Linked DNA regions of Homo sapiens: all the other regions are linked to region 4. The links come from fine-mapping of genetic effects on plasma protein levels. A gene starts in region 4. Each other region holds a variant in brackets. All regions are shown on one strand. Distances are between the middles of the regions.

The links. PIP is the posterior inclusion probability: the model's chance that the variant is causal. The UK Biobank Pharma Proteomics Project read protein levels with antibody pairs (Olink). The fine-mapping took linkage between variants from a reference panel, not from the people measured, so its PIPs are less certain.
Region 1: its variant is fine-mapped to the plasma level of the NAAA protein (UK Biobank, PIP above 0.99).
Region 2: its variant is fine-mapped to the plasma level of the NAAA protein (UK Biobank, PIP 0.97).
Region 3: its variant is fine-mapped to the plasma level of the NAAA protein (UK Biobank, PIP above 0.99).
Region 5: its variant is fine-mapped to the plasma level of the NAAA protein (UK Biobank, PIP above 0.99).
Region 6: its variant is fine-mapped to the plasma level of the NAAA protein (UK Biobank, PIP above 0.99).

Annotation. Positions count from the first base shown.
Region 1 is chr4:75,581,578-75,586,578 of GRCh38, forward strand. CDKL2 (cyclin dependent kinase like 2) reads right to left here. Exons shown (of 14, transcript NM_001330724.2): 13 at 233-321. The coding sequence ends at 256. It also overlaps the pseudogene COX6CP9. Among named protein-coding and RNA genes, the nearest start is that of ODAPH, 28 kb to the left of the region's middle. The variant A/G (reference allele first, on the strand shown) is at 2,350.
Region 2 is chr4:75,627,374-75,632,374 of GRCh38, forward strand. It overlaps CDKL2 (cyclin dependent kinase like 2), which reads right to left and starts at 3,155. Exons shown (of 14, transcript NM_001330724.2): 1 at 2,669-3,155. The variant G/A (reference allele first, on the strand shown) is at 2,195.
Region 3 is chr4:75,662,797-75,667,797 of GRCh38, forward strand. All of the region lies in intron 1 of G3BP2 (G3BP stress granule assembly factor 2), which reads right to left. Among named protein-coding and RNA genes, the nearest start is that of G3BP2, 8.1 kb to the right of the region's middle. The variant CAAACAA/C (reference allele first, on the strand shown) is at 2,854.
Region 4 is chr4:75,938,439-75,943,439 of GRCh38, forward strand. It overlaps NAAA (N-acylethanolamine acid amidase), which reads right to left and starts at 2,575. Exons shown (of 11, transcript NM_014435.4): 1 at 2,306-2,575; 2 at 1,563-1,727. The coding sequence starts at 2,511. RefSeq lists silencers at 1,858-1,927, 2,328-2,797.
Region 5 is chr4:75,600,481-75,605,311 of GRCh38, forward strand. CDKL2 (cyclin dependent kinase like 2) reads right to left here. Exons shown (of 14, transcript NM_001330724.2): 6 at 3,337-3,476. Among named protein-coding and RNA genes, the nearest start is that of CDKL2, 28 kb to the right of the region's middle. The variant G/C (reference allele first, on the strand shown) is at 985.
Region 6 is chr4:75,593,748-75,598,748 of GRCh38, forward strand. It overlaps CDKL2 (cyclin dependent kinase like 2), which reads right to left. Exons shown (of 14, transcript NM_001330724.2): 8 at 4,330-4,465; 9 at 3,188-3,489; 10 at 2,500-2,593. Among named protein-coding and RNA genes, the nearest start is that of CDKL2, 34 kb to the right of the region's middle. The variant C/T (reference allele first, on the strand shown) is at 2,594.

The DNA.
Region 1 (5,001 bases), 360 kb before region 4:
AAATGCAGGAGATTAGTTTAAGAGCAAGAGATGTACGCTCTGCGAAAAGGGATTTCATCTCAGAGATAAATACTACTTCTGGTTTTCTAAGTGGCACAACTCTTTCTCTATCAGAAGTTCTCATGGAATCAATCACTGGAGACGGTTTCAGCTGAAAAATTGGTATTCAGCAAGCCACAAAATAGTACCTGTGAAAGGCTGCACAGCTTTAAGTATGGGAAATCACACCTACCCAGTTCAGAACCAAAATGGTTCTCAGTGCTGGTGTTCCATTTGAGGCAAATCAGCCCCTGAATCATCTGACAGGGGAGGTCCTGATACCTATAAATTAATAATAGAGCATCATAGGTTCTCAGTAATTGCAAAAGTTCCACTTCCCCAAAATTTCAATTCTATTTGTTCAAATATTAGATGTTTATAATTAACTATTCATAGCTCAAGTTGCCTACATGGAAAAGAATGAAGTAAGGGGACATTGTTCTTTTCCTTTTCTTTAGTCCCAAACATGACTGCTGAGTGGATGTTATTCTTTGATCTTAGTTTATGCATATGTTAAAAGATACTTCTGATCTGCCAAGGCAGTGTAAGCCCACTACAGCCCATCTCTTCTACTTATTACAAAAATACAAAAACAGAAACCTGTTGGAACCATCATATAAAGACTTTGAAGCAGCCCTTATAACTCTGCTACATGAAGTAAAGGAAAACATACTTGAAATGAATGAAGGGATAGGAATTCTTAGCAGAGAAACAGATGCTATAAAAGGGAACCAAATGTATATTTTGGGACTAAAAAGCACAGTATCTGAAATTTTAAAATCTCACTGGATGGACTTAATAGCAGAATGAAGATGATAAAGTAAAAAGTCAGAGAACTTGAGGATAGATGAATAGAAGTGGCCCAATCTGAAGAACAGAAAGAAAAATGATTAAGAAAAAGTGAACAGAGTCTCGGGAACCTATGAGAAAATACTAAATGGTCTACCATACATATCATTAGACTCTCAGAAGGAGAGGTGAGAGATTATGGCAGAAAAAAAAATTTCAAAAAACATGACCAACAACTCCCCAAATCTGGTAAAATATATAAGTTTAAAGATTCAAGAAGGCTGGCAAACCCCAAACAGGACAGACTCAAAGAAAACTATGTCTAGATACATCATATTTAAGCTAATGAAAAGAAAAGATAAAAATTAAATCTTGAAAGCAGCTAGAGGAAAATGAAACATTACATATAGGGAAACAATTCAAATGCCTGAGAATTTCCCACCAGAAATTACAGAGATCAGAAGACAGAAGAATCCCATCTTTATAGTGCTGGGAGGAAAAACAAAAACAAAAATATGTCAACCCAAATTCCATATCCAATAAAATATACTTCAAGAATTAAAGTAAAATAAAGTCATTCTCAAATGAAGAAAAACTAAGAACATTTGTCACCGTCAGACCTGCTCTGCAAGAAATGCTAACAAGAAGATTTTCAGGCTGAAGGAAAATAATACCAGAGGAAAATCTAGGGAAGAAGAGAGACCGACAGAAATGGTAAAGAGCTAGGTAAATATAAAAGACAACTTTTTCTCATAAATTGTTTAAACTATTTATGACTGTTTAAAACAAAACATATAACGTATTGGGGTTCTGGAGATATGTAAATGTAGTACATATGAAGTTCTAACTTAAAGTGCAAACTGGGAAGAAGGGAATATGTTAGCAATGTTCCTACTTTTTTTGTTGTTAATTATTTATCAAGAGAAACTATTTCTTAGACCACATATTCATGTTTCATAGCTCAGGAACACAGGTAAGTGACAAACTTCTAGGTAATTCAACCCAAAGAAATCCTTTGCATTCCAAAATCACTTTGTATTCTGAAAGATACCAGCCTTCCCCATCTCCTCCAAATCTTTCACGGAATCATAATTTCTGTAGAAATCTGCATATGTCTTCTTTCTTGGTTCAGCCACAGCAATCTTACAGACAGCTGCAACCCCCAGGGATACAATAAAGGCTCCAACAATATGAAATTGCAGACATTTGGCCAGAAGACCACACATCTGAGGTTTTGCCAAAGCGGTGGAAGCCATGGTAGTTACTGTCCTTTATAGGTATGTCAACCTCAAAACCAACGTCTTTCCTGGATGATGGAGAAATGGATGGGCAATTCGTACTTTTTATTTCAAGGGGTACAATGTAGACTACGAAAAATTAGTGATGTATATTGTAATTCCTCGAGCAATCACTAAAAAAAATATAAAAAGATATTGCCGAAAAAATACTGAAACTATTCAAAAACAAAAGAAAACTGGAAAGGAAAAACAGAGGAGCAAACAGAAAACAAATAATAAAAAG[A/G]TGGGACTAGATTCAAAAATATCAATTATCACATTAAATGTTAATGGTCTAAACATTCTGTGATCAGCAGGATTGTAAAGCTATGCCCTTAAGATTCCTGTCCCTAGCTAGTTAATCAAACTAATTTCAGTACCGATATGAAGGGACTTTGTGCATGGAATAAATGTTACTAATTAGCTGTTAATTGTTACTAATTAGCTGTTAAATGTTACTAATTAGGATAGATTATCTTCGTGGGCCGAGTGTAATCATGTGAGCTCTTAGCATCAGAGTAAGTCAGAGATGTGGCAGAAGGAGTGGTCAGAGAGATTCAAGTGTAAGAGAGATTTGACCACTGTTGCTGGTTTTGAAGGCAGAGGAAGTGGGCCATGAGCCAAGGAATGTGAGTGGCATCTAGAAGGTGAGAACAACCCCCAGCTGTTAGCCAGCAAGGAAATAGGGACTTCTGCCCTACAACCATATGGAACTAAATTAGCCCAACAACCCAAGTGAACCTGGAAATGGTTTCTCCCCAATGCCTCCAGAAAATAATGCAGCCCTGCAGACACCTTGATTTCCACCTGTGAGACTCATTCAGAGAAGCAGCTGTGCCCTAGCTCCTGACCCAGAAACTGTGAGAAAATAAATAGATATTAATTTAGTGTGTTAAGTAGTCCCCCCGATCCATGAGGGATATGTTCCAAGGCCCCCAGCGGATGCCTGAAACCTCAGATAGTACCAAGCCCTAAATATACAGTATTGTGTTTTTTTTAATCTGAAAGCCTAGACAGCTACTAAGCAATAAAAGGGTAGGTAGCATACATGGATACACGGGACAATGGGACAATTCATGTCCTGAGCAGAACAGAGCCAGACAGCTCAAGATTTCATCAGGCTATTCAAAATGGTGTGCAATTTAAAACTTAAGAACTGTTTATTTCTGGAACTTTCCACTAACATTTTCAGACCACAGTTGACCATAGGTAACTGAAAGTGCAGAAAGCAAAACTATAGATAAGGGGGGACTACCACATCTCTAAGGTAGCAGAAATAATAAACGAATACACATTCCAATTAAAAGGCAAAGACTGACAGAATGTATACAAAGGAAAAATCCTATTTATATGCTGTCTGTGAAAGAAACACTTTAAATATAAATATAAAAAACAGATAGGGTGAAAGTAAATGAAATCAACAAGATTTACTATGCAAACATACGTATAAGAAGTTTGGAATGGCTATTTTAATATCAGATAAAATAGACTTCAAAGCACAGACCACTACAGAGATAAAGAGAGGCATTTCATAATGAGAAAAGGTACAATGTATCAGAAAGACAAGACAATTATGTGCAAATACCTAATAATAGAGATTTAAAATACATAAAGCAGCCAGGCATGGTGGCTCACTCCTGTAATCCCAGCTACTCAAGAGGCTCAGGAGGAGGTCAGGAGTTTGGGTCAGGAGTTTGAGCAACACAGCAAGGCCAGCCACAACATCAGAGCAAGACCCCATCTCTCAAAACAAAAAAGAAAAAATTAGCTGGGTGTGGTGAGCTGTGCCTGTAGTCTTAGTTACTCAGGAGGTTGATGGGGGAAGATCGCTTGATCCTAGGAATTCAAGGTTGCAGTGAGCTATGATCATGCCGCTGCACTCCAGCCTGGGCAACAGAGTGAGACCCCATTTCTAAAAAAATAATAATAAAATACATGAAGCAAAAATAAATAGATACAGGCCAGGTATGGTGGCTCATGCCTGTAATCCCAGCACTTTGGGAGGCCGATGTGGGTGGATCACTTGAGTTCAGGAGGTCAAGACCAGCGTGGGCAACAAAGCGAGACTCTGTCTTGAAATAAATTAATTAATTAAATTAAATTAAAACAAACAGATATAAGAGAGAAATAGGCAATTCTACAACATAATAAAAGATTTTAACAGCACTCTTTCAAGAACTGATAGACCTAAACAAAAAAAATTAAGAGCATAGATGACCTGAAGAATACTGTACTATTAACCACCTTGATCTAATTTCACATTTATAGAACAATTAATCCAACAACAAAGAATATACATTTTTTCAAGGGAATGAAGTCAATCACCAAGATAGACCGTAGACCATAAAACATGTCTCATTGAATCTAAAAAAATCAAGATCACACTGAGTGTATTCTCTGACTACAATGGAATTAAATTACAAATTAATCAGTAATAAGATATCTAGGGAAACCTCAAATACCTGGCTATTAAACAACATTTCTAAATAATTCATAGGTGAGAGAAGAAATTACAAGGGAAATTAGAAAACGTTTGGACTAACCTTTCTTTTTTTTTTTTTTTTAAGATGGAGTCTTGATCTGTCACCCAGGCTGGAGTGCAGTGGCACCATCTTGGCTCACTGCAAGCTCTGCCTCCCAGGTTCACATCAATCTCCTGCCTCAGCCTCCCGAGTAGCTGGGACTACAGGCGCCTGCCACCACGCCCAGCTAATTTTTTTGTATTTTTAGTAGAGATGGGGTTTCACCATGTTAGCTAGCCAGTAAGGTCTCGATCTCCTGACCTTGTGATCTGCCCACCTCAGCCTCCCAAAGTGCTGGGATTACAGGCGTGAGCCACTGCGCCCAGCCTGGACTAGCCTTAATGTTAAAACATGACAAAGATATCTTTTTTAAAAAA
Region 2 (5,001 bases), 310 kb before region 4:
GCAATTCTCCTGCCTCCGCCTCTGAGTAGCTGGGATTATAGGCGTGAGCCACCACACCCGGGTAAGTTTTGTATTTTCATAGAGATGGGGTTTTGCCATGTTGCCCAGGCTGATCTCAAACTCCTGACCTCAAGTGATCCACCCACCTTGGCCTCCCAAAGTGCTGGGATTGCAGGCGTGAGCCAGAGCGCCCGGCCTGAATTTAGTTTTAATAAAGATCAACTTTTTTGTTACACTGGATTTAGATCAATGTTGGAAATACTTATGCACCTTCCACTTAATTGGAAAAAATATTTGATCACATAACAAATTAACACAGAGCATCTTTCATAAAATATTTTTCTTTACTTTTTTTTTCTTTTTTTTTTTTTTTTTTTTGAAACGGAGTCTCGTGCACTGGCGCGATCTCGGCTCACTGCAACCTCTGCCTCCCAGGTTCAAGCGATTCCCTGTTTCTGCCTCCCCAGTAGCTAGGGTTACAGGCACCGCTACCACGCCCAGCTAATTTTTGTACTTTTAGTAGAGACGGGGTTTCGCCATGTTACTGTTACTATATTGAACTTAGAAAATAAGAGTAATGACATCGGTATATAAGCAGATTTTTAAAATTAAATTAAATTTTATTAAATTTAATGTAATTATTAAATTAAATTAAATATTAGTAGTACCAAGTACAGTAAAAGTATTTCAAAAACCCTGTTAATGATTACTCACTATAAGTATAATTTGAATTTGTGTTTGAAATTTTTTTTTTTTTTTTGAGACGGAGTCTTGCTCTGTCGCCCAGGCTGGAGTGCAGTGGCGCGATCTTGGCTCACTGCAAACTCCGCCTCCCGGGTCCACGCCATTCTCCTGCCTCAACCTCTCGAGTAGCTGGGACTACAGGCGCCTGCCACCACGCCCAGCTAACTTTTTGTATTTTTAGTAGAGACGGGGTTTCACCGTGTTAGCCAGGATTGTATCGATCTCCTGACCTCGTGATCTGCCCGCCTCGGCCTCCGAAAGTTCTGGGATTACAGGCGTGAGCCACCGCGCCCGGCCTTGAAATTTTTTACTCATATTATATGACATTTTCTGAATAAAGGCAATCCTAAGAGAATCTTTCTTGTTTTACCAATGATTGACGAAGGTCCAGCAATCATTGGACAAAATGCTTTCGTACAGAAAAAAATTATTTCAGTCCAAATACAGATAGATTTTAACTATCTATTATTTCAGTAATAATAGATAAAAAATTATTTCAGTCCAAATACAGATAGATTTTAACAAGAAATAATTCTTGCCTGTTGTATTAATTGTATACTTACGGCAATCTAAAATTTACTCAGATCGTGAACTGTTTTTCCTATTTCTCTATTGGAACAGTGATGCAAAGACAAAACAAATATTCTCTTTGTTCTAGCAAACTATGCTAATCCAATGTATACAATACGTTTTCCACACTTGACATATAATAGTTTGAGATTTTATAATATATATATTTTTAATGTAGCTATATGTGGAGAACCAGAAGATTGATCTTGAGGGGTGGGAAATGAAAACAATACCAATGAACATCGACTTAAATTATTATTTTACTACCAGTTTTCATAGTAGATTCTACTACAAACTTTTTACAGAGCAGTGTCCCAGACACTAACTTTCCATGCATTTGACATTTTACCTTCTATTCCACTTCCATTAACTATTTTTTAATAAACTGTTTGTATTTGAAAAAAAAAATCTCCATATAATTCTATCCCTTCTTAATTTTTTTCTCTTCCATTAAGAGAGTATGTTTTATTAAGCACTAGGCTTTAGGTTTATCATACCAATGACAAAAATAGCTTGAATCTATAACCTGGATTATTTTAAAACATTTTGTAATTGATGTCCTCAATATTTGAAAGCACAAAGTGAACCAAAAAAAATGACTTTAAGCATGTCTGAGGTGTTCTGAAGCATATCCCAAGCTAACATTAATGCAAGTTGACTGCTTCAAGTTTATTCTCCCAACCAATTGCATATCTGGACACACCACATTGAACACACCTGCTTTTTCAAGTGACACTGTCCACAAATACTTTAAAAGTATCACAGCCTACAAAGCCTCCTGTTTCCTGAAACAGTTACTCATAAACTATAACTTCTCATGCCTTCTACTCTTGAACGGAAAGGTAATACAAACGAAAAAGAAACCTGGCCAATGGGCAAG[G/A]TGTTATTTCTGGATGGTTCTAAAAGCAACAATTTTGATAAAAATATTTGGAGAATGCTAATTTTTTATTTTGTTTAAGACAGATTAAAGGGCCGGGAGCGGTGGCTCACGCCTGTAATCCCAACACTTTGGGAGGCCGAGGCGGGCGGATCACCTGAGGTTGCGAGTTCGAGACCAGCCTAACCAACATGGAGAAACCCTGTCTCTACTAAAAATACAAACTTAGCCGGGCGTGGTGGTGATGCCTGTAATCCCAGCTACTTGGGAGGCTGAGGCAGGATAATCGCTTGAACCCAGGAGGCAGAGGTTGCGGTGAGCCGAGACCATGCCATTGCACTCCAGCCTGGGCAACAAGAGTGAAACTCCGTCTCAAAAAAAAAAAAAAAAAAAAAAAAAAAAAAAAAAAAAAAAGATTGAAATCTTTTATAGATCAAAGAACGAGATAATAGAAGCTTTAAAACGTACTATACTTACCGTTTCTTCAATCCGTTCGCATAGAAAGACCCAAAGGTTTTCAACTTGGAAACAAATTTGAGGTGAAATGCATATGGTTCGCAGGTCCAAAAGATGCTGCCTAGCAAACTAGCAATTCCAGCGCTGTTGTGATTTCTTCTGCGGACGCAGTCACGAGTCCAGGGCGAAGCAGGCAGGGAGGCAGGTGGGCCTCGGTCCGCCGCAAGCTCACACTTAGGAGGACCACGGGCCGCATGCTGTCGTCGTCAAGGCAACGACCTCACTCTGTCCCCAACCATAGGCACAAAGTCTTGGGAGACAGATACGGCCCAGGTCAGAATGCGTTCACGGCAGGCACCAACACCTGTGAAGGCCAAGGGCTAGAGAGCAATTAGCTGGGTGAGAGGCACCACCTCCCAGCTCGTAAGGCGCCCAGTACCTGGAGCCTGGGAACCTGCACCGCTCCAACTACCCCTGGGCGAAGGCGTTGGCCGCGGAGCTGCAAGGGGGGGCGGTTTCTCACCCGCCCCGAGAGCGCCAGGCCTCCCTTCTTCTGATTGGCCGAGCCGAGTCGTCACGAGCCATGATTGGCTCAGGGCCAACCACCCCGCCCCTTCACCTAGGGCTCGGCCCAGGTTCTGCTCCCTGACACGCAGAGGCCCTGCGTCCCCACACGCCTTGGTTCTCGTCAGGAGGCGCCTTTCTGCCTTCCCCAGCGGGAGGAGGCGATTGTGATGCCCACGCGAAGGGTAAAGGTGGCGGTTATGTAGGACTGCGAAGACTATGCAAAATGCGATACGGTTTCCCTCATAGCATCGCCGCTGGGGCAGGGGCGGGCGCCGGGCGCCCTGAGTCGCGTAGGCGCGGCCTGACCGGGATTCCATGCTTCCTTTCTGTTCTGGGCGGTGGGGCCAGTGTGAGCCAGGTAGGAGATAACGGTGACAGTTTAGGAGGTGATGATTAGTAGGCGAGGCAAGGTGGAAGAAGGTAGGTGATGACAGACCTGACGTTAGGAGGGACCTTGGGAAGGCCAGTCTGGCCATTGAAAGTGAGGGAAAACACTGAGATGGAGGAAGGGGAAGAGAGGGCATGAGTGGAATGGGAAAGCGCTGGGATGGCTGGGGATCTGGAGGACACGCACAACACCCGCGTATGGCAGCCAAATGGGGTGGAGTTAGGGCTTGCGATAAAACTTGCCTTAAATGCAAAAATGCAGCTCAATCCACGACTGAGCAAGACTGGTAGGTCAGAATCATGCACAGGCTTAAATCACACAGGAACAGAGCTTACCCCATTTTCAAAGAATCTGAGGCAGCGAGGAGGCCATAAGGCCAGTAAAATAACACTTTCAATCATGATAACTAAATGTTCATGATCATTTTGGTCTCGAAACTACTTTGATTTAGGGAATAGAGTGTCCTGGATAGACAAATGTCTACCATATACCCTAGTCAATATTAAGGTATTAATCATTAATGTTAAGGTATTGATTCCTTCTTGTACATTAAGAAATAGACATTCTTTTTATAGTCTTTTGTGAGTTTGGTTAGTTTGCATTAATCTCCCAGTGGTTAATTACCTTGGTCAGACTGCTTAAAATCTAGTTCCTGAACCTGTAATATTGAGAACCAGACCTGAGGCCTAGTTATGGAAAGAATAGAATTATTTGGTCAATTCAAGATGTGACTCTTAGTGTAGCAATTAGCTCTGTCCTTAGCTGTGTCCAAGTTGCGAGAAGCCCTGTCCCATTTGGTACCTCTATAGGCTATAAGAGAATCTGATGAACTTCTTTTATATGGGGGTAGATTCAGTTTTGTTGGGCCTGAAGCTTAAGAACAAGAGCGCAAAACTATTTTACTTTTGCAACTTTATAATCATATTCAACCGTATAACATTTTAAGGCCCCTTCATGCAAGAGGCCTAGAAGCTTCAATAATCTATTTATATCTCACAGGGAACCAAAGGATAAAGACTGAAAATACTGGATTTGGCGAACAAGTGATGCTTTAGGAAACAATTTCAGCCAGATGCGGTGGCTCATGCCTGTAATCCTAGCACTTTGGGAGGCCAAGGCGGGCAGATCACCTGAGGTCAGGAGTTTGATACCAGCCAGGCCAACATGGTGAAACCCTGTCTCTACTAACAATACAAAAATTAGCTGGGCATGGTTGTGAACGCCTGTACTCCCAGCTACTTGGGAGACTGAAAAAAAGAAAACAAACAAACCAAAAAAAAACAATTTCAGTAAGAACTGAGTTTGAAAGCCAGTTGTAGAGGACAGAGGTTATTAAAGACTTACACATTCTGGCCATCTACAGGATTGTTAATAGAGAAGGTATTATGTAGAAACAGGA
Region 3 (5,001 bases), 280 kb before region 4:
TGGGGACCAAAATCTACTACATTCCTGGATTCCAGTGGTTTTATCCTAGGAAGCAAGACAGAGGGCCCAAGTTAAGACTCAGAGATAACACTCATGGCAAAGCACCATGACTTGTGTTTTTGTATTCTCTTTCCTTCTGGGAATTAATTTCACCATTTTCAAAATGGTAACAATGATTAATCACCAGCTATAACTTCAGTACTTAGAGAGAATCATTTTTTACCTTTGATATTATGTCTCTCTTTCTTTCCACTAATTAAGCATCTAACTACATGAGATACTGTTTATAATAAATGAAATACTCTAGTGAACAAGATAAGTCTCTAGCCCTCAAGGAGTTTATAGTCTGTCAAGAAATATAAACAAGCAAACTGGAAACTTAACAGAATGGGTTAGGTGCTATGATAATGTGCCTCAAAGTTAAAACCAACAAGAACAACTAACATGAAATAAATACAATTTCCTATTTTTGTCTTCTGAGACAGGGTCTCGCTCTGTCACCTAGGCTGGAGTTTAGTGGTGCAATCATGGCTCACTGCAGCCTCAACTGCCAGGCTCAGGCTCAGGCTCAAGCGATCCTCCCCGCTAAATCTCCTGAGTGGCTGGGACTATAAGCATGCACCTGGCTAATTTTTTTAAATTTTTTAATTTTTATTTTTAGCAGAGACGAGGTCTGGCTACAATGCCCTGACTGGTCTCGAACTCCTGGCCTCAAGTGATCCTCTCACTTCAGGTGTGAGCCACAAACAAAACTTATCATTTACTGTAGGAATATAATCCCCAGGGCCAGGTACGGTGGCTCACACCTGTAATCCCAGCACTTTGGGAGGCAAGGCGGGTGGATCACAAGGGCAGGAGTTCAAGACCAGCCTGGCCAAGATGGTGAAACCCCATCTCTACTAAAAATAAAAAAATTAGCCAGGTGTGGTGGTGGGTGCCTGTAATCCCAGCCACTCCGGAGGCTGAGGCAGAGAATTGCTTGAACCCGGGAGGCGGAGGTTGCAGTGAACCAAGATCGCGCCAGTGCACTCCAGCCTGGGCGACAGAGCGAGACTCGTCTCAAAAAAATAAAAAATAAAAATATGAAATATAACCTATTTTATTTTTGAGATGGAGTCTTGCTCTGTTGCCCAGGCTGGAGTCCAGTGGTACGATCTTGGCTCACTGCAACCTCTGCCTCCCGGCAGAGCAATTCTCTTGCCTCAGCCTCCCGAGTAGCTGGGACTACAGGCACGTGTCACCACACCTGGCTAATTTTTGTATTATTAGTAGAGACGGGGTTTCACCATGTTAGCCAGACTGGTCTTGAACTCCTGACCTCGTGATCCACCTGCCTCAGCCTCCCAAAGTGCTGGGATTACAGGCGTGAGCCACCGTGCCCAGCCACCTGTTTTATTTTAAAAAGACCTATTAAACTTAAAAGTACTAAAAAAAAAAAATCATAATTCCTAAGCATGTATCTACTGGGTAAATCAGGATGCAGTTGAAATTCCTGCTTAGCCAGGTGCGGTGGCTGACGCCTGTAATCCCAGCACTTCAGGAGGCCAAGGTGGGCAGATCGCCTGAGGTCAGGAGTTCGAGACCAGCCTGGCCAAAATGGTAAAACCCCTTCTCTAGTAAAATACAAAAATTTGCCAGGCGTGGTGGCTGGCGCCTGTAGTCCCAGCTACTTGGGAAGCTGAGGCAGGAGAATCGCTTGATCCCAGGAGGCAGAGTTTGTAGTGGGCCAAGATCATGCCTCTGCACTGCAGCCTGGGCAACAACAGAGTGAGGCTCCATCTCAATAAATAAATAAAGTCCTGCTTAAACTTCAGGTTGAGCTGGGAGGATCATTTGAGATCAGGAGTTCGAGACCAGCCTGACCAAGATGGTGAAACCCCATCTCTACTAAAAATACAAATAATTAGCAGAGCTGATGGCACACACCTGTAATCTCAGCTACTCAGGAGACTGAGGCACAAAAAATCACTTTAACCTGGGGGACAAAGGTTGCAGTGAGCCGCGATCACACCACTGCACTCCAGCCTGGGCAACTGAGTAAGACTCTGTCTCAAAACAAACAGACAAAAAAACACTGCAGGCTGGCACAGTGGATCATGCCTGTAATCCCAGCACTTTGGGAGGTGGAGGTGGCAGGAAAGCTTGAGGCCAGGAGTTCAAGACCAGCCTGGCCAACAGAGAGACCCCATCTCTATACAAAAAATTAAAAATAAAAAGTCAATTTCCATGTGTGTTTACTTTAAATAACTAAAACAATTTCAGAGACAGCCCTGCATAGGTCATTAAAATTGTGATGCTGTTTTTAATAAAAATCAAATACCAACTATAGTAGAGCTTACAGATAGAGTGTAGCTTTACATAATTCTAGTGACTCACAATTCAACTTCTACATTATGTTTTTAGGTTCCTTGTTTCTTCCTTTCCAACAAACTATCCCTCCTCTAACTGTCCTTCTTAAACTCTCAAACTTGATTTACAAAAATCCCCAAATCTGTTTAAAATTTTTTATAATGCCTCACTTGCTTTCAAAAATAGTTAATTCACAAAGAGCAGATCCAAATACTGCCATTTCAGGTGTCATTGATTTTCCAGAAAACTTAAAACTCCCAATAAGGGTAACAACCCTAGTGCAAAAAGGACTCACATATGCTACATTTAAAGTAACAAAGCACTGGGCTGTGGCTCACGCCTGTAATCCCAGCACTTTGGGACGTCGAAGTGGGCAGACTGCTTGAGCTTAGGAGCTGAAGACCAGCCTGGGCAACAAGGCAAAACCCCATCTAAAATTAGCCAGACATGGTGGTGCACACCTGTAGTCACAAACACACAAACACACACACACACACAAACACA[CAAACAA/C]ACACACACACACACACACACACACACACAGCTAAGCAACTAACATTTTTATTTTGAATAATGAGGGTGGGTAAAGAACAGTAGACTTACCTGGTAAAATTTAACAAGATAACTAAAACATGGAAATTATATGTATTTTAACACCATAAAAACTGATGGTAAAATAATACTAACACATGGGAAAATACTACATTACTCTCTGAACAAAATAACTATACACAAAATAGTTTTCTTTAAATTGATAGTGACAGAAATACTATTAGGAATTTCCGGGTTTGGGAATTGTTTTCTTCTCTCTGGATTTCCAGATTTTCTACAGGAACACTGTTGTCATTTATCCCAAATTTCCCATCATATTCATAGAGTACATACTGATCTATCATTTTTGTCACTTACATATTTGTTTCTCAAACCAAAATAAAATGGTACATAATACATATATAATATCACAGGTCAAAATGCTCTAAAGATTTGTTGTAACAAGGTTCAAAAAAAGCTTCAAATTGCCCACTATCTACATGGTCACTGAAGTATAATGGCCAACATACCATCAATTTAGAACAGAGAGACAGGGAAGGGCAGTAGAAGTAATATTTGATTAATCAATACTCAATAAATTAATACTTAGAACTATTGGAAGGCAGTAACTTGAAAAGTTAACTTCAAATGGTAAATAAGTAAGGCAATGCTAATCTGGTAAAATCTAAACAGGCATATAACAGGTTATATAGAAAGCTGAGCTTTTAAGGTGCAGAGGAGGCTCCCAAAGGAATGGTAAAACAAAATCAAGATTTACTGAGAGAACAGTGTTTCAACTAATTACATCAGTTACTTCTTTAACCATAACTCCGATTTGAAGTGACTCAGAATTTAGAGAGCCAAAATATAATTGATAGAAATCAACCAGAAAATGACTACTAGAGATCAACCATCAAACAACGTGGTTTGGGTATTGCAGGAAATAAGACTATGAAAATTGAGTAAGTAATATAAAGTTCGTATTTATAATTCATGCAGTGTACGTAAGAAGGTTGAGAAAAAGGAAAAAAGCCAAATTACACTTTCAGAATAAAAGTGATTACAAGAAGAAAGAATTGTGCCATTTTTATTATTCATAGCAAATCATCTTACAGGTAATCCATTTCTAGATCTGGGACCTTCCATTTCTTAAAAAAAGTTAACAAAACGAAACAAAATTCTGAATATGGGAGTAAAAGGTTTCAACTATCTTATCCATGGCCATGAAAAACTCATGACCTTACTGGATCTCGATTTCCTAGTTTACAAATTGAGAAGAAATCCCCGGTCAAGCCTACAAGACTATACAGTTCTACAAAGATAGCCAAGAAGGCCTGGTGCAGTGGCTCACACCTGTAATCCCAATATTTTGGGAGGCCAAAGTGGGTGAATCGCTTGAGCTCAGGTGTTTGAGACCAGCCCAGGCAACATGGCAAAACCCCGTCTCTACTAAAAAATACAAAAAATTAGCGGGGCGTGGTAGTGTGCAAGCGTAGCTCCAGCTACTCGGGAAGCTGAGGTGGGAGGAATGCCTGAGCCCGGGAAGTCAAGGCTGCAGCGAGCCAAGATGGCACCACCGCACTCAAACCTGGGTAACAGGAGTGAGACACTGTTTAAAAAAAAAAAAAAAAAGATAGCCAAGATTAAAGGATACTTATACACAAAAAGAAATCTTTAGAAAGTTCTTAGATTAGCACCTTCAAAGATAACTACCATCTTCAATAAGGTGGTTGTTAGCCTCACCTAACAACCTTTTTAGAAAAAGTTAAATACAATATATCACACTCCACTTCTTCCAATGACACCTGAAAATGTGAAGAATCTCACACAGGAATGCACAGTGTAAAATTTTATCTGATACATTAGCTCTATACACAGTCAAAGCTCTCTCATGAACAAATCCGTCTTTTACTTGTCAAATGAAAACATTATCCAAGGCCAGGCGCAGTGGCTCATGCCTACTTCCCAGCACTTTGGGAGGCAATGGCAGGAGGATCACAAGGTCAGGAGATCGAGACCATCCTGGCTAACACAGTGAAAGCCCGTCTCTACTAAAAATACAAAAAATTAGCCAGGCCTGGTGGTACGCGCCTATAGTCCCAGCTACTCAGGAGGCTAAGGCAG
Region 4 (5,001 bases):
TAGGAGAGGGAGGTGGTAAAATTATAATAACTTAGTTCAACTGAAAAGCATGTTATTTAGCAGGCCTGTGTCTTTTCTGTGCCTGAAAGCATTTCCTGAAGAGGAAGGCAGTCCCAGTGCTTTTTAGCTTACTCTGCCTAGGTGTTCTGGGAAAATGCCTGGGCCAGTAAAGTTTCATTATTCCAAGATCTTTTCTACCCCCATCATCTTTAGGCAGCAAGAAGCTCTAAGTATGTACAAGAGGTTACGAGATGAAGCTAGTCTGCTGGCAAAACAATAAGTATTGAAGGAAGAAACCAAGTCAAAACCTCTCTTTATTCCAGGGCCTATTACTGAGCCCATAAACCTTTAGTGGTCCCCTGCACTTTGCCTGGGATCAACCACACACTCCATGTTGCTTTCACTTCTGGGTGCACTTTTTTTCTTTGATATGGAATCTCGCTTTGTCGCCCAGGCTGCAGAGTGCAATGGTGCCATCTTGGCTCACTGCAACCTCTGCCTCCTGGGTTCAAGTGATTCTCCTGCCTCGGCCTCCCAAGTAGCTGGGATTCACAGGTGCCCGCCACCAGGCCCTGGTAATTTTTTTGTATTATTAGTAGAGACGGGGTTTCACCATGTTGGCCAGGCTGGTCTTGAACTCCTGACCTCAGGTGATTCACCCGCCTCGGCCTCCCAAAGTGCTGGGATTACAGGCGTGAGCCACCGCGCCCAGCCTGGATGCACATTTTATCATGCCCACTTCCCGGTCCAAACACTGGCTGGCCCTATTAGAGCAGTGTTCCCTGTCGCCCCAGCCCTGGTGGACACAGACACTTCAGCCACGACACACATGAAAGGATAAATGCAGGGCGACAAATAAGGGCAGAGATGAGCCACTGCCAGTATAGAGCTGGAAGGCCACTGAGTTAACTAAAGGGTCCAGATGAGAGGAGGCTTAGTTTCAAAAACTTCCTGGAAAAGTACGTTTTGAGCAGAATTTTTTTTTTTTTTTTTTTGAGACAGAGTCTCGCACTGTCGCCAGGGCTGGTGTGCAGTGGCGCGATCGCGGCTCGCTGCAACCTCCGCCTCCCGGGTTCAAGTGATTCTCCTGCCTCAACCTCCTAAGTAGCTGGGATTACAGGCGCCCACCACCACGCCTGGCTAATTTTTTGTGTTTTTCGTAGAGACGGGGTTTCACTATGTTGGCCAGGCTGATCTCGAACTCCTAACCTCGTGATCTGCCCACCTTGGCCTCCCAAAGTGCTGGGATTACAGGTGTGAGCCAACGCGCCCGGCCTTTGAGCAGAATTTTAAAAGTACGCTACCTGGATTGGGGAAGAGAAAACCCGGGGCTACACGTAGAGGGAAAGTTTAGTGTTGAATCGGAGAATCTGCTTTCCCTCTCGAAGCCTACGATGTGCAGCTCAGATTTACCCAGAGAGGCAAAGAGGAAGCGCTGGAGGTTTCTAGGCAAGCAGGCACCGCCCTGTTTTTATCACACGGAAAATATGTCTCCTCCCGCTAGTCTGTGTCGGGGGCCCCCGCAAGCCCCGCGTTACTCCGCGCGGGCTTGGGGCACTCACACGGAGGACTCGTAGGCCAGGTTGACCAGAAGGCAGTCCGCCAGGCTGAGGTTCATGAAGTCACACATGCCGCGGATCTCGCCGGTGAAGGGCTGGGGCAGGAAGCGCTCCAGCTCCAGGACCACTTTTCCGATTAACACGTGCACCCACTTGGGGACTCTGTCCCTAGAAACAAAAAGCACAAGGGCGTCTGACCCGCTCAGAGGTCGGCGGCGTGCGACTGCGTGTGCACTGCGAGCGGGGCTACATCCTTAGGGCGTGAGGTCTCAGGGCCACTGCTCCCCAGTCAGTGGACCGCCCAGGCGCGGCGTCACTCAATCTGCAGCCTCCCGGGAGTGGGGGGAAGGGGGCGGGGGGAAGGCGGCGGGTAAGAAAACTCCGAATGGGGAGGGCGAGTGAGGCTGGTCCCAAAGGGGCAAGCTTGGAAGGCCCGCGAGGCCCGCAAGGAAGGCGCGGGTTGCCCCTCCTTGGTAGCTATGCAGCCCGGGCGACAACTCGCGCGCCACGCTGACCCGGAATGGCTCAAGGACTGGCGTGCCACGGGTGACACCGAACTTGAAAGCCGAACCTGCCGCGCTGGATTCTCCCCAACCCGGACGCTGCTCAGGGCGGCAGCCAAAACCAGTTCTCCAAGGGTGGCGGGGAGTAAAGCGTCCCCGTTTAAAGCACTCTGAGCAGCGCGCGTTTGACTCCGACCCGCAGGGCCGGTGTCCCCGCAGACCCCGTCCAGGGCCCCAGCTCACCCGATGACTTGCGCCATCGCGGCGCGCACCAAGTCCAAGTCGTAGTGCCGCAGCACGGGCAGCCAGCGCAGCTCGGGGACCGAGTCCAGGCTCACGTTGAAGCGCGGCGCTGCTGGGGGCGAGGCGGCTGACAGCCCGGCCCCGGCCAGCAGCAGCAGCAGCAGGGACGGAAGCCCCGGGCGCGCCTCCCGGTCCGCGGTCCGCATGGCTCGGGCTCCAGCGGCCGCAACTTGGAGACCTGCAGCCGCTGTCGGAGCCCGGGTAAGCCGTGGAGGAGGAGGAGCTGGGGCTGGGCTGCGATCGCTGGAGGTGGGGCCCGCGCACGACCCGCCCGCCCCTGTCACCGGCAAGCCGGAGCGGCGACACCTCCCGTCCCCGCCGCGCATCCACTAGCCCGCCCCGACTCTCCATCGGGCCTGGAGGTCCCTGACCGCGGGGCCGCTAAGGGTTGGGGCTGCCGGCAGCCGGCTTCTCACCAACTGCCGGTTCCAGCGCACCTGCTTGGGCCGAAGGAGTGTAGGCTGCGGCCGGGAGGGGCTGTAAGATTTTCAGTAGCGAAAAGGTGTCAGGAAAGACTTTTCAGTTAAACTTTGTTTGCTTGTTTGTTTGTTTGTTTGAGATGTAGTCTCACTCTATTGCCCAGGCTGGAGTGCGGCGGCGAGATATCCGCTCACTGCCAACTCCGCCTCCTGGGTTCAAGCGATTCTCCTGCCTCAGCCTCTCAAGTAGCTGGGATTACAGGCGTCCACCACCATACCTGGCTAATTTTTGTATTTTTGGTAGGGACAGGGTTTCACCATGTTGGCCAGACTAGTCTCGAATTCCTGACCTAAGGTGATCCACCGGCCTCAGCCTCCCAAAGTGCTGGGATTACAGGCGTGAGCCACCGCGCCTGGCTGGTAAAACATTTTTTTAAAGCTCAAAATTTAGTGAACATTTATCTGCTAAATATTTTTCGCGGACATTATCTCATTTAATCATCAAAACAAGCCAACAGGTAGGTTCCACTAATCCTCGCTTTACTGATGAGGAGTGTGAGGCTTGGAGAGGTGAAGCCATGTACCCGAGGTTACTCTGCTGGTGTGTCTCTGCACTGGCCTCCAAGTAAGGAGGTCTGAATCCACAATCCACCTTCACACCTAAGTTTCTTCACCTTTGAGTTCCCAATGTCTGGGAGACAAACTTAGGAAAATCTTAGTAAGGCTGGGACATTCTTAACGGTTAGCACAGTTGTCTGTGGGTAAAACAGGGTACATGTGTACATGAATAGTAGAAACTAAATGAAAGGGCCGGGCATGGTGGCTTAGGCTTGTAATCCCAGCAGTTTGGGGGGCTGAGGCGGGTGGATCACCTGAGGTCAGAAGTTTGAGACCAGCCTGGCCAACATGGTGAAACCCTGTCTCTACTAAAAATACAAAAATTAGCCGGGCGTGGTGGTGTAATCCCAGCTACTTGGGAGGCTGAACAGGAGAACCTCTTGAACCTGGGAGGCAGAGGTTGCAGTGAGCCGAGATTGTGCCAATGCACTCTAGCCTGAGTGACAAGAGCAAAACTTTGTCTCAAAAAAAAAAAAAAAAAAAAAAAAAAAAAAAAAAAAAAAAAAAAAAACTAAATGCATAGTAGAAACTAAACACATTTTTTTTTTATTTTTTACCAATTTTAGGATGAAGAAATACAACTTTTATAATCAATCACTTGTTTTTAAGGATAACACTTAAAGGAATTACAAAATTTCTTGCCAGACATGGTGGTTCACGCCTGTCATCCCAGCACGTTGGCTGGCTGATCATCTGAGGTCACTTGGTTTAATGAATAGAATCAGAATTGCTGGTGGTTGACTTCCAAGACTAGGTCACAAAAGACACTGTGGGTTTCTCCTTGCTCTCTTGAATTGCTCACTATAGGAAGCCCATTGTCATGTCCTGAGGAAGCCCTATGAAAATGTCCCTTTGTGGCTGGACACAAATCTCAGCACTTGGAGAGTCAGGCAGGAGGACTGCTTGAGCCCAGGAATTGGAGACCAGCCTGGGCAACAGTGAGACCCCATCTCTACAAACAAATAAAAATAAATTAGCCGGGCATGGGGGCATGTATCTTTAGTCCCAGCTACTTGGTAGGCTGAGGTAGGAGGATTACTTGAGCCCAGGAATTTGAGGCTGCAGTGAACTATGATCACGCCACTGTACTCCAGCCTAAATGACAAAGTGAGACCCTGTCTCCAAAAAAGAAGTAAATAAAATTGAAAAAAAAGAAAAAAGAAAGTCCCTTTGTTGAGGAACTGAGCTTCTACCAAGAGCCAGAGAGGAACTGAGGCTTCTTGTCAAGTCATCTGAGTGAGCCATGGTGGAAGTGGACCTTCCTGCCTCAGCTAAGCCACCCCCAAATTCCTAACCCATAGAAACTGTGAAGCAGGCCGGGCATGGTGTCTCACATCTGTAATCCCAGCACTTTGGGAGGCCGAGGCGGGCAGATCACTGGAGGTCAGGAGTTTGAGACCAGCCTGACCAACATGGTGAAACTCCGTCTCTACTAAAAATATAAAAATTAGCTGGGCGTGGTGGCGGGTGCCTGTAATCCTAGCTACTCGGGAGGCTGAGGCAGGAGAATTGCTTGAACCCAGGAGATGGAGGTTGCAGTGAGCCCAGATCGCACCACTGTACTCCAGCCTGGGTGACAGTGAGACTGTCCCCCCCCGC
Region 5 (4,831 bases), 340 kb before region 4:
AGGGTCTCACTCTGTTGCCCAGGCTAGAGTGCAGTGGTGTGATCACTACTTAACCGCAGCCTTGACCTCTCTAGGCTCAGGTGATCCTTCCATCTCAGTCTCCTGAGTAGCTGGGACCACAGGTGCACACCACCACACCCAGCTAATTTTTGTATTTTTTGTAGAGACAGCGTTTCGCCATGTTGCCCAGGCTGGTCTCGAACTCTGAGCTCAAGCTATCCACCCTCCTCAGCTTCCCAAAATGCTGGGATTACCAGCGCAAGCCACCACACTTGCCCGCCAATGAATTTTACACATCAATAATCAAGGATAAAGAATAAAGCACAAATCTAGACAATGACCGTCAGTGGTTGCTAGTATCACAAAAAGACCACCAAACATTCAGTGTCTCTATATGGAAATACACAAACCTCCTATGAAGTAGTTTTGCCAAAAAATCAACCTGATTCTGATCGAGCTCTAGCTCTACTGTGAGTTTATAAGAAATACAGGACACAGAAGAACATGTATACTGCATTATGTAGAAAATTCTAAGGACAAACAACTTAGTTTCTTCAACAAATAAATTGCAAGATTTAAACAAAAAAGAAAGAGATGAAGAGAAGCTTATAAATAAAGTTTTAAAAATATATCGACCAATTGCAATCTATAGTCTTCATTTAGATCCTAATTCAAACTATGAAATGAAATAAATTTTGTGAAAATTAATGAAACTTTAAACATCAATTAGATATTTTATGATAGTAAGAAATTATTTGGAATTTTTAAAACTTAAGGCTATTACAGAATGGAAAGGAAAGGATTTATCCTGTGCTTATCACTATGCTAGATGCTTTACAAAGATTATTTTATTTTATTTTATTTTATTGCAAAGTCTTGTTCTGATTCATTAAAACCCCTAACATGCCAGTAAAAATAGAAGGGACTCAATAAGTAGCTTTAAATGAACAAGAAAATTTCTCTGCATAACTGTGCTACTTATAA[G/C]TAAAATAATACATCTGGGATTTGCTTCAAAATACTCCAAAAAAAGTTAAAGAGTGTAGATAAATTAAACAAGATTATCAAAAGGTTGATAATTGTGGAAACTAGATGATAAGTACATGAAGGTTTGTTAAACAACTATTCTTTCTATTTTCTTTTCCGTTTGAAATTTTCCATAATAAAATGTTTTAAAAGTTTTATATGATTCCTTAAGGTATGATTAAGGTACACAAGTTGGACAATAGTTTTACCTTTATTCCCTTTATATCTCCTTACAGATAGATCACAAAGCTTGTACCAATTAAAAATATTTGCATCTGTTAGAAGATTATGTAAAAAACTGGAAATGTATTATTCTAAGAACTTGTTTAATTAGTTATAAGCTTATTAAACGTCATGAGTTAAAGAATTAAAAAACAAAAAAATTGGGTAAATCTTATAGCCTAGTGTTTTAGAGGTACCTATCTTATCAATATTTAAACAATCTTAACTGATGAGAACTTTTTGAGCTAAAAATTCCCCAAAAAGGTCAAATTTTAGAGTTGATTCTCACTTGATAGAATGAAAACCTAACATCTTCCTTAATCAAATACAACAAAAAAGTATTGGCCATTTGTAAACTGGCTGCAGCCAATACAGTGGCTAAGCAAAAACCCCTTTGACAATATCATACAGATCATGATCCTATGCCCTACATTTTGTTTTTTTTTTGTTGTTGTTGTTTGTTTGTTTTTTTTGACATGGAGTCTCGCTCTGTTGCCCAGGCTGGAGTGCAGTGGCGTAATCTCAGCTCACTGAAACCTCCACCTCCCAGGTTCAAGCAATTCTCTGCCTCACCTTCCCGAGTAGCGGGGGTTACAGGCACGTGCCACCACGCCCAGCTAATTTTTGTATTTTTAGTAGAGATGGGGTTTCACCATCTTGGCCAGGATGGTCTTGAACTCCTGACCTCATGATCCACGTGCCTCGGCCGCCCAAACTGCTGGGATTACAGGCATGAGCCACCATGCCCGGCCATCCTATGCCCTACATTTTAATATTTTCCTACTTCTCTATCCTTTATTTATTTATTTATTTAAAGAGAGAGTTTCACTCTGTCACCCAGGATGGAGTGCAGTGGTGCGATCTCAGCTCACTGTAACCTCTGTCTCCTGGGTTCAAGTGATTCTCCTGTCTCAGCATCCCGAGTAGCTGGGATTACAGACATGCACCACCATGCCCAGCTAATTTTTTTGTATTTCTAATAGAGATGGGGTTTTGCCATGTTGGCCAGGCTGGTCTCCAACTCCTGACTTCAAGTGATCCACCGGCCTTAGCCTCCCAAAGTGCTGGGATTACAGGTGTGAGCCACCATGCCCAGACCCTTTTTATTTTCTTATCCTACTTTTATTTTCTTTTCCATTTAAACAAGGCGTGTATTTTAAATGTTAAACGTAAAAATCATACAGTGTTTTTATGTTTTTAATGTGTTTTTCAGTGAGGATGTTTTCACATTTACAAAATGCTAGATAACAATAAATGGTTTCTTTTTTTTTTTTTTTTTTTTTTTGAGACGGAGTCTCGCTCTGTCGCCCAGGCCGGACTGCGGACTGCAGTGGCACAATCTCGGCTCACTGCAAGCTCCGCTTCCCGGGTTCACGCCATTCTCCTGCCTCAGCCTCCCCAGTAGCTGGGACTACAGGCGCCCGCCACCGCGCCCGGCTAATTTTTTGTATTTTTTAGTAGAGACGGGGTTTCACCTTGTTAGCCAGGATGGTCTCGATCTCCTGACCTCATGATCCACCCGCCTCGGCCTCCCAAAGTGCTGGGATTACAGGCGTGAGCCACCGCGCCCGGCCAATAAATGGTTTCTTAATGAGTGTTAAAACAGGTAAAATTTTCAGTCCTTTTTCTCTGAAGTTACCCCCATCAAATTATTTAAATTGTTTCTAAATGTACAAAAATTAAAATTATTAGAGGAAATTGTTGACCTAAAAGATCAACTAGAGGCCAGGGCTGGTGGCTCACACCTATAATCCCAGCACTTTGGGAGGCCGAGGCGGGCGGATCACGAGGTCAGGAGATTGAGACCATCCTGGCTAACACAGTGAAACCCCGTTTCTACTAAAAATACAAAAAATTAGCCAGGCATGGTGGCGAGCGCCTGTAGTCCCAGCTACTAGAGAGGTTGAGGCGGAAGAATGGTGAAGCTTGCAGTGAGCCGAGATCATGCCACAGCACTCCAGCCTGTGTGACAGAGCAAGACTCCATCAAAAAAAAAAAAAAAAGATCAACTAGACAAGTAAAAAAAAAAAAAAAAGGTCTTGATAGTGCATAAATTCCCTGTCATAAAGTGTAAACAATAAGTATGATTACCTTTGCTAAATCTATCACCACTTCAGAGAGCTTAGGATAGCGTCTTTCAAGAGGTTCTCTTTCCTTGATTTCAGGCAACCTTACTCCAGCAAACACAGGATTTTTATTAAAAAGCTCCTGATGCCTTGGAATTAGATTACCTGGAAGTGAAAACAGCACATATCTCTGTTATTATACAACATGATAGAAATGGTGAAGAGACAGGTGGTGTGAAGTAGAGGAAATAGTGGAACACAGCTTATGGAGTTTGGGGCTCTCTCAACATGCAAAATTGACCAAAGACAATGCCGTTACTGTGGTGGTATATGGCAGTCTTAAGGAGCATAGGAAAAGGACAGGTAAAAAATATTTTATAACTTTCCAGATATAAGTACCAGCACTTCGTTTCTAACTAGAAAGCATAAAGTGCTGAATAAAACAACAAATATATTAATAGTCATATGGACAGGATCTAATCTAGATAAATCAGTTCTCCCCTTTAAGAATTTAATATTTGGTCAACTGATTTTGTGCTTATCTTAAAGTCAGATTTGAGCACTTTAATCTTTTTTCTCAACTTTAATATCTAGTTGAATGTAGAATATATCTGAAAATTCCACTGTAAGAAACTATTGTACTGCTTATTTAATTTCTAATCTGAAAACTTCAAATCAAATAGTTAAATTACCCCCAAGTATTTTCCCATTATTTCCATTTCTAAGCTCCATCTTCAAACATGAAGTTGATATTTCAACAAACGTAAGATTTTGATAGTCCAGCTTTGAAATTCTGTCAAAAGCACTAATAGCAGAAGTCCAAATCTGTGCCAAGATTAAATCAACCTTGGAAATCTCTGTGTCTCTCCTCTTGAATGTGAAAGTAAGGACAGTAGTCACATTACACCAAATGCTTACTGACTCAAGAATAATAAATGATCATTGCATCCTCTCTACATGTAATTAACGGTATGTAAAAGTACAGAGAAATGCACAACCTCTGCTCTTTTCCTCTCTCTTGAGGGGAAAGGGGATGTGAGCGTGATTAAGAACATGCACCAGGGCGGGCCACAGTGGCTCACGCCTGCAATCCCAGCATTTTGGGAGGCCGAGGCAGGAGAATCGCTTGAACCTGGGAGTCGGAGTTTGCAGTGAGCCAAGATTGCCACTGCACCCCAGCCTGGTGACAGAACGAGACTCCGTCTCAAAAAATAAAAAAGAACATGCATCAGATAGACCAATGCCAGACTGAAGGAAAAAATAAATTAAAACACACACGTGGCTGGGCGCGGTGGCTCACGCCTGTAATCCTAGCACTTTGGGAGGCCAAGGTGGGCAGATCACCTGAAGTCAGGAGTTCGAGTCCAGACTGACCAACATGGAGAAACGCCATCTCTACTAAAAATACGAAATTAGCTGGGCATGGTGGCACATGCCTGTAATCCCAGCTACTCGGGAGGCTGAGGCAGGAGAATCGCTTGAACCCAGGAGGCAGAGGTTGCAGTGAGCCGAGATTGCGC
Region 6 (5,001 bases), 340 kb before region 4:
ATAAACTAAGAATAATTAAAAGAAAAACAAATACAATGTCCAAATCATGAGAGAGATGAAAAGGCTGTATTTTTCAGCTCTGAAGATAGTGAGAGAAATAGAGAGGGAAATTTGTCTCACACACACACAAACACACACACACAAGGAATATTCCTTTGGGAATACATCCATACCTCCCTTTGTTGTGAAAAGCATTCATTCATTCAGTATGGAGTCTTTCCTTAATGAAAATTAATGCAAGCAGAGATAAGCCTAGACTTTCTTCAACTTGTAGGTTAAAGGACAATACCTCTCTCCCATGTTTTATACCCCCATTCTAAGGTGTGAATAAATGTATTATTATAAATATTTATTTTGTGTTTTATTTTCACTCTTTGAATATATTAATCTGGTAGTTTGAACTCATTTTTAAATTTTAGGCCAGCCCTGGTGGCTCACGCCTGTAATCCCAGCATTTTGGGAGGCCAAGGTGGGCAGATCACCTGAGGTCAGGAGTTCGAAACCAGCCTGGCCGACATGGAGAAACCCCGCCTCTACTAAAAATACAAAAATTAGCTGGGTGTGGTGGCAGGTGCCTGTAATCCCAGCTACTCGGGAGGTTGAGGCAGGAGAATCGCTCAAATCTGGGAGGCGGAGGTTGCAGTGAGCCGAGATCATGCCACTGCACTCCAGCCTGGGCGACAGAGCGAGATTCTGACTCGAAAAAAAAAAAAAATTATTTTTTCTACTTGCATAGGAAGGAAAAGTACAGTGAAGAAAACAAAAGCACAAATCTCTGCCTTGGAATCTTACGTTCTAGCTGGGGGAGACAGACAATATATAAATAAGAGTATATAGACGATGTCAGGTAAATGCAATGGAAAAAAAAATAAGCAAGGAGAAGGCATCGAACATAAAGGGAGGCATAATGAGTTACAAGACTTCACAGTAAGGTTTCATGTGAGCTAAGAAGAGAAAAAGCAAATCCATTGGGTTATCTGGGGGAAGAATGTTCCAAAGCAAAAGAAATAGCAAGTGCAAAAGCCCAAAGGTGGGAGTATGTCTGACTATGTTCCAGGAATAACAAGGAAATCAGTGTGGTAGAACAGATTGATGGAGAAAGAGTAGGTGGAGATGGGATAGAGGGTTGGTTGGAGTCAATCCTGCAGGCACTTATAGACCCTATAAGGACTTTGGCCTTTCCTCAGTGATAAGAAGCTAATGGAGGAAGTTTAGCAGAAGAATGATGAGGGTTTCACCTAACTTCAAAAGAGAAACATTCTGGAGGCCATGCTGAGAATAATAATGGTCCTTCCTGTGCTCTGTCTAAATACAATATGATACTATGCTTTAATTTGCTGATCCTCTAGATCATGAAGTCCTTGAAAAGAAAGATTGACTTATTTATTTCCAGTGTCTCACACATAACGATTGATAAATATTTATTATATAAATAAATAGAATCGTTTCTTTCTTCTTTTTTTTTTTTTTTTGAGACAGGGTCTTGGTCTGTCACCCAGGCTGAGGTGCTGGGGCACAATTACAGCCACAGCTTACCACTGTAGCCTCAACTTTCCAGGCTCAAGCAACCCACCCATCTTAGCCTCCCAAGTAGCTAGGACTACAGTCATGTGCCACCATACCCAGCTAACTTTTTAAAAAATTTTTTGTAGAGACAGGATCTTGCTATGTTGCTCAAGCTTGTCTCAAACTCCTGGGCTCAAACTATCCTCCCACCTCGGCCTCCCAAAGTGCTGGGATTATAGATGTGTGCTACTGTCCCTGGCCAATAGAATACAGCCACCAAAAATCTGGTGTGGGTGAGATAAGACAATTTATCTTTTCATCTACTCTAAAAAAGAACTGACCAGCAATCATCAAGTTGAGAAAATTTACTATGTTACTAAAGAAAAAATAAAACAAGCCAGGCACAGATGGCTCACACCTGTAATCCCAGCACTTTGGGAGGCCAAGGCAGGTGGATCACGAGGTCAGGAGTTCAAGACCAGCCTGGCCAAGATGGTGAAACCCTGTCTCTACTAAAAATAAAAAATTAGCTGGGTGCGGTGGCAGGCACCTGTAATCCCAGCTACTCAGGAGGCTGAGGCAGGAGAATCACTTGAACCCAGGAGGTGGAGGTTACAGTGAGCCAAGATCTCACCACTGCACTGTAGCCTGGGCAACAGAGCAAGACTCCATGAAAAAAAAAAGAAAAGAAAAAGAAAGAGAGGAAGGAAGGAAGGAAGGAAAGAAGGAAGGAAGGAAGGAAGGAAGGAAGGAAGGAAGGAAGGAAGGAAGGAAGGAAGAAAGGAAGGAAGGAGTTTTTAGACTCATAAAACTTAAACTTTCAGAATTTCACGTTTATGACTATGATGGGTTGGGATAATATATGCACAATTAAGGTTTCACTTTATGTGTATCCAAACAAAATTCTCAATACTTCACTATCATATTTAATTTTAATAAAAGTCTAGAGCTGACTGGTGTTTGCTCTTCTACTACTGAGAACTGCTTACTTACTAATGTGGTCACATTAATGTTATAAATGCCTGATGGGGAATGTCTGTTCGGTTTAACAAATGGAATAGAACACTTCTTAGTTTTCTCATCCACT[C/T]TGTAACGACAAAAAAAAATGTTTTTAAGTTAGAACCAGCAATAATTATTTTTTCAAGCACAAAACTAAATGACACAGCACCAACTAACAAGCAGTTTAACCAGAGTGTAATGTCTATTCTCAAATATACAATGCACATAAATCTGGTGAAACATTCTATTCTTTAACACTACCCTCATGCCTCCCAGCAGCCCCCAACTCCTACCAAATACATTACCCTCCTTTCAGCAAAATTCCCAAATGGAGCTTCCTTATACTACTATAGGCTCACAGTCACACCATGCAGCAGCAGCCACTCAAAAATTATCTCTTTTAGTATGACAACCTGCTTTCACATTATTAGACTATATAGCTGTAGATTCTCTTCACCTTAAGCAATAAAACCCTACTTTCTCAGGACTTTGGTGAATTGTTTTGATCAAATGCTAATAATCTTCATCACACAGCCAAAAAGTCTTTTGAAACAGCTACCTGACAAGAATGAATAGCATCCAGAATTCTGAGAATAAAAACAATGTGGATGAATTGACAAACCCTTGCAATTTGCAAATATGTCCTTAAACACTTTTTTGATCTTATTTTACTAATTCATACCTGTAACCCTGAATTGGTATAGTCTCAGTCCCCATTCCAGAATTAATGCTGGGAGCAACTGCAGAAAGATTGTGTGTAAGTGGGGGAATTGCCACGCTTGGATTCCTTGTGTGGTCCACGCTGACATTGCTGCAGTCTTTGAGGCTTGTTGAAGGCACTATTTTGTTGTGGCTTGTCCTACTGTCATGGAGACAGCTGGCATTTGAAGCTCTATTGCCTTTTTCAGCTTTTTCTCCATCAATTTTTGAGCCTTTTATTTTAAATAGTTTATAATCCTTAATTTTGGGATCAGCATTGGTATCCTGATCATTAACAAAAATATTAATAAGGTTAATGATCTGAAGAGAATGAAAATTTACCTCTTCTTATAAAGTACTTGTCAACTAGAGCAGAATATCATAAGTATCACCTTTTTGAAACTGTTTTCTTTATTCTTCCTAGGGGATTAAAATTAAAGCCAGATTCTTATTCAGATAGTTATTGGGAAAATACAAAAAGAATGGAAATGCAATTCACACAGCTCACTCAGACACACACACACACACATACACACACATCAGTGGAAAAACTCATGGAAGAGGAATCAAGAATTCCACTTTTGTTCTTACATATTCAGAGTCATGGAACACAAAACTGATAACTCTTTCTTCTTTTGGTGTACTTGATATAAGTGGATTGGTGGTGGATTTGAATTACCTTATCAAGAACAGATCCTGGGTAGTTCACCAGGAAAAGCAAACCTAAGTTAAGTATCCAAATCTCACTTTTCAAATTTTTACTTCATATAAATTTCTACAGACAATATTTTTCACTCATATCCTTTAAGAAAGATAAGTGGGGTGAGGGTTGTTTGTTCCATGTGTCTGTGTGTATATGTGTTCATGAAAACACATATCTAGATGTTCTTGGATGAATGTGATTTAAGCACTGTTGCACAGTCTGGCACATAACAGGTACTCAAAACATGATATGTTAAGTTTTCTAAACAGGTAATATCTACTGAGAAGATACATTTTTACAACTAAACTAAAAGTTAACAATTTGCTCACTGCTCAGAAAACTTTTTTCAAAATCATATTTTTTCTCAAAAAATTTAAAAAAATAAGTATATTAAATCTAAAATGTGAAACATGAACATTTACCTGTACCACAAGTGTTTTTCTTTCTTCAACTAAGGAATCATCTTTTTCTTTTTCCTTCTTTCTGTTTTGGGATTTTTTAGATAAAGAAACATTTCTGGCATCTTTCTGTACTTTTAACTGTAGTTCTTGGGAAAACCTACATAAAAATATAATAAAATAAAATTGTAAGACATGGATAAACCTACAAAAAAATTGACTTTCAAGATATTTATTTTTTAAAAATTGAATGTTAAACTAGTCTATGTTATTAAAAATGAGAAAAATCCTGGCCTAGATCAGCAGTTTGGAAAGGGTGGTGTGTAGATCTTTGGGGATCCCTAAGAACATTCAGAAGGTTCACAAAGTCAATGCTATTATTTTAACATAAAGATGTTTGTCTTTCTCACCAGGTTAACATGAAAGCAGTGGTGGATAAAACTGCTGACACCTTACCAAGAAGAAAAGCAGCAAAACCAAAATGTACTAGCAGTCATTACTTTCTTGATAACCACACATTCTCAGTTGCTTTTTTTTTTTAAAAAAAAAAAAGGCAGTCTTGCTTAAGAATGTCTCTGATGAATCAGCAAAAAGGTATTGACTTCATTAAAGCCAAACTCTTAAACGCATCCTTTTTTTATGGTCTGTGTGACAAAATGAGAATATACGTAAAGCACCTCTGCTACAAACCGAAAC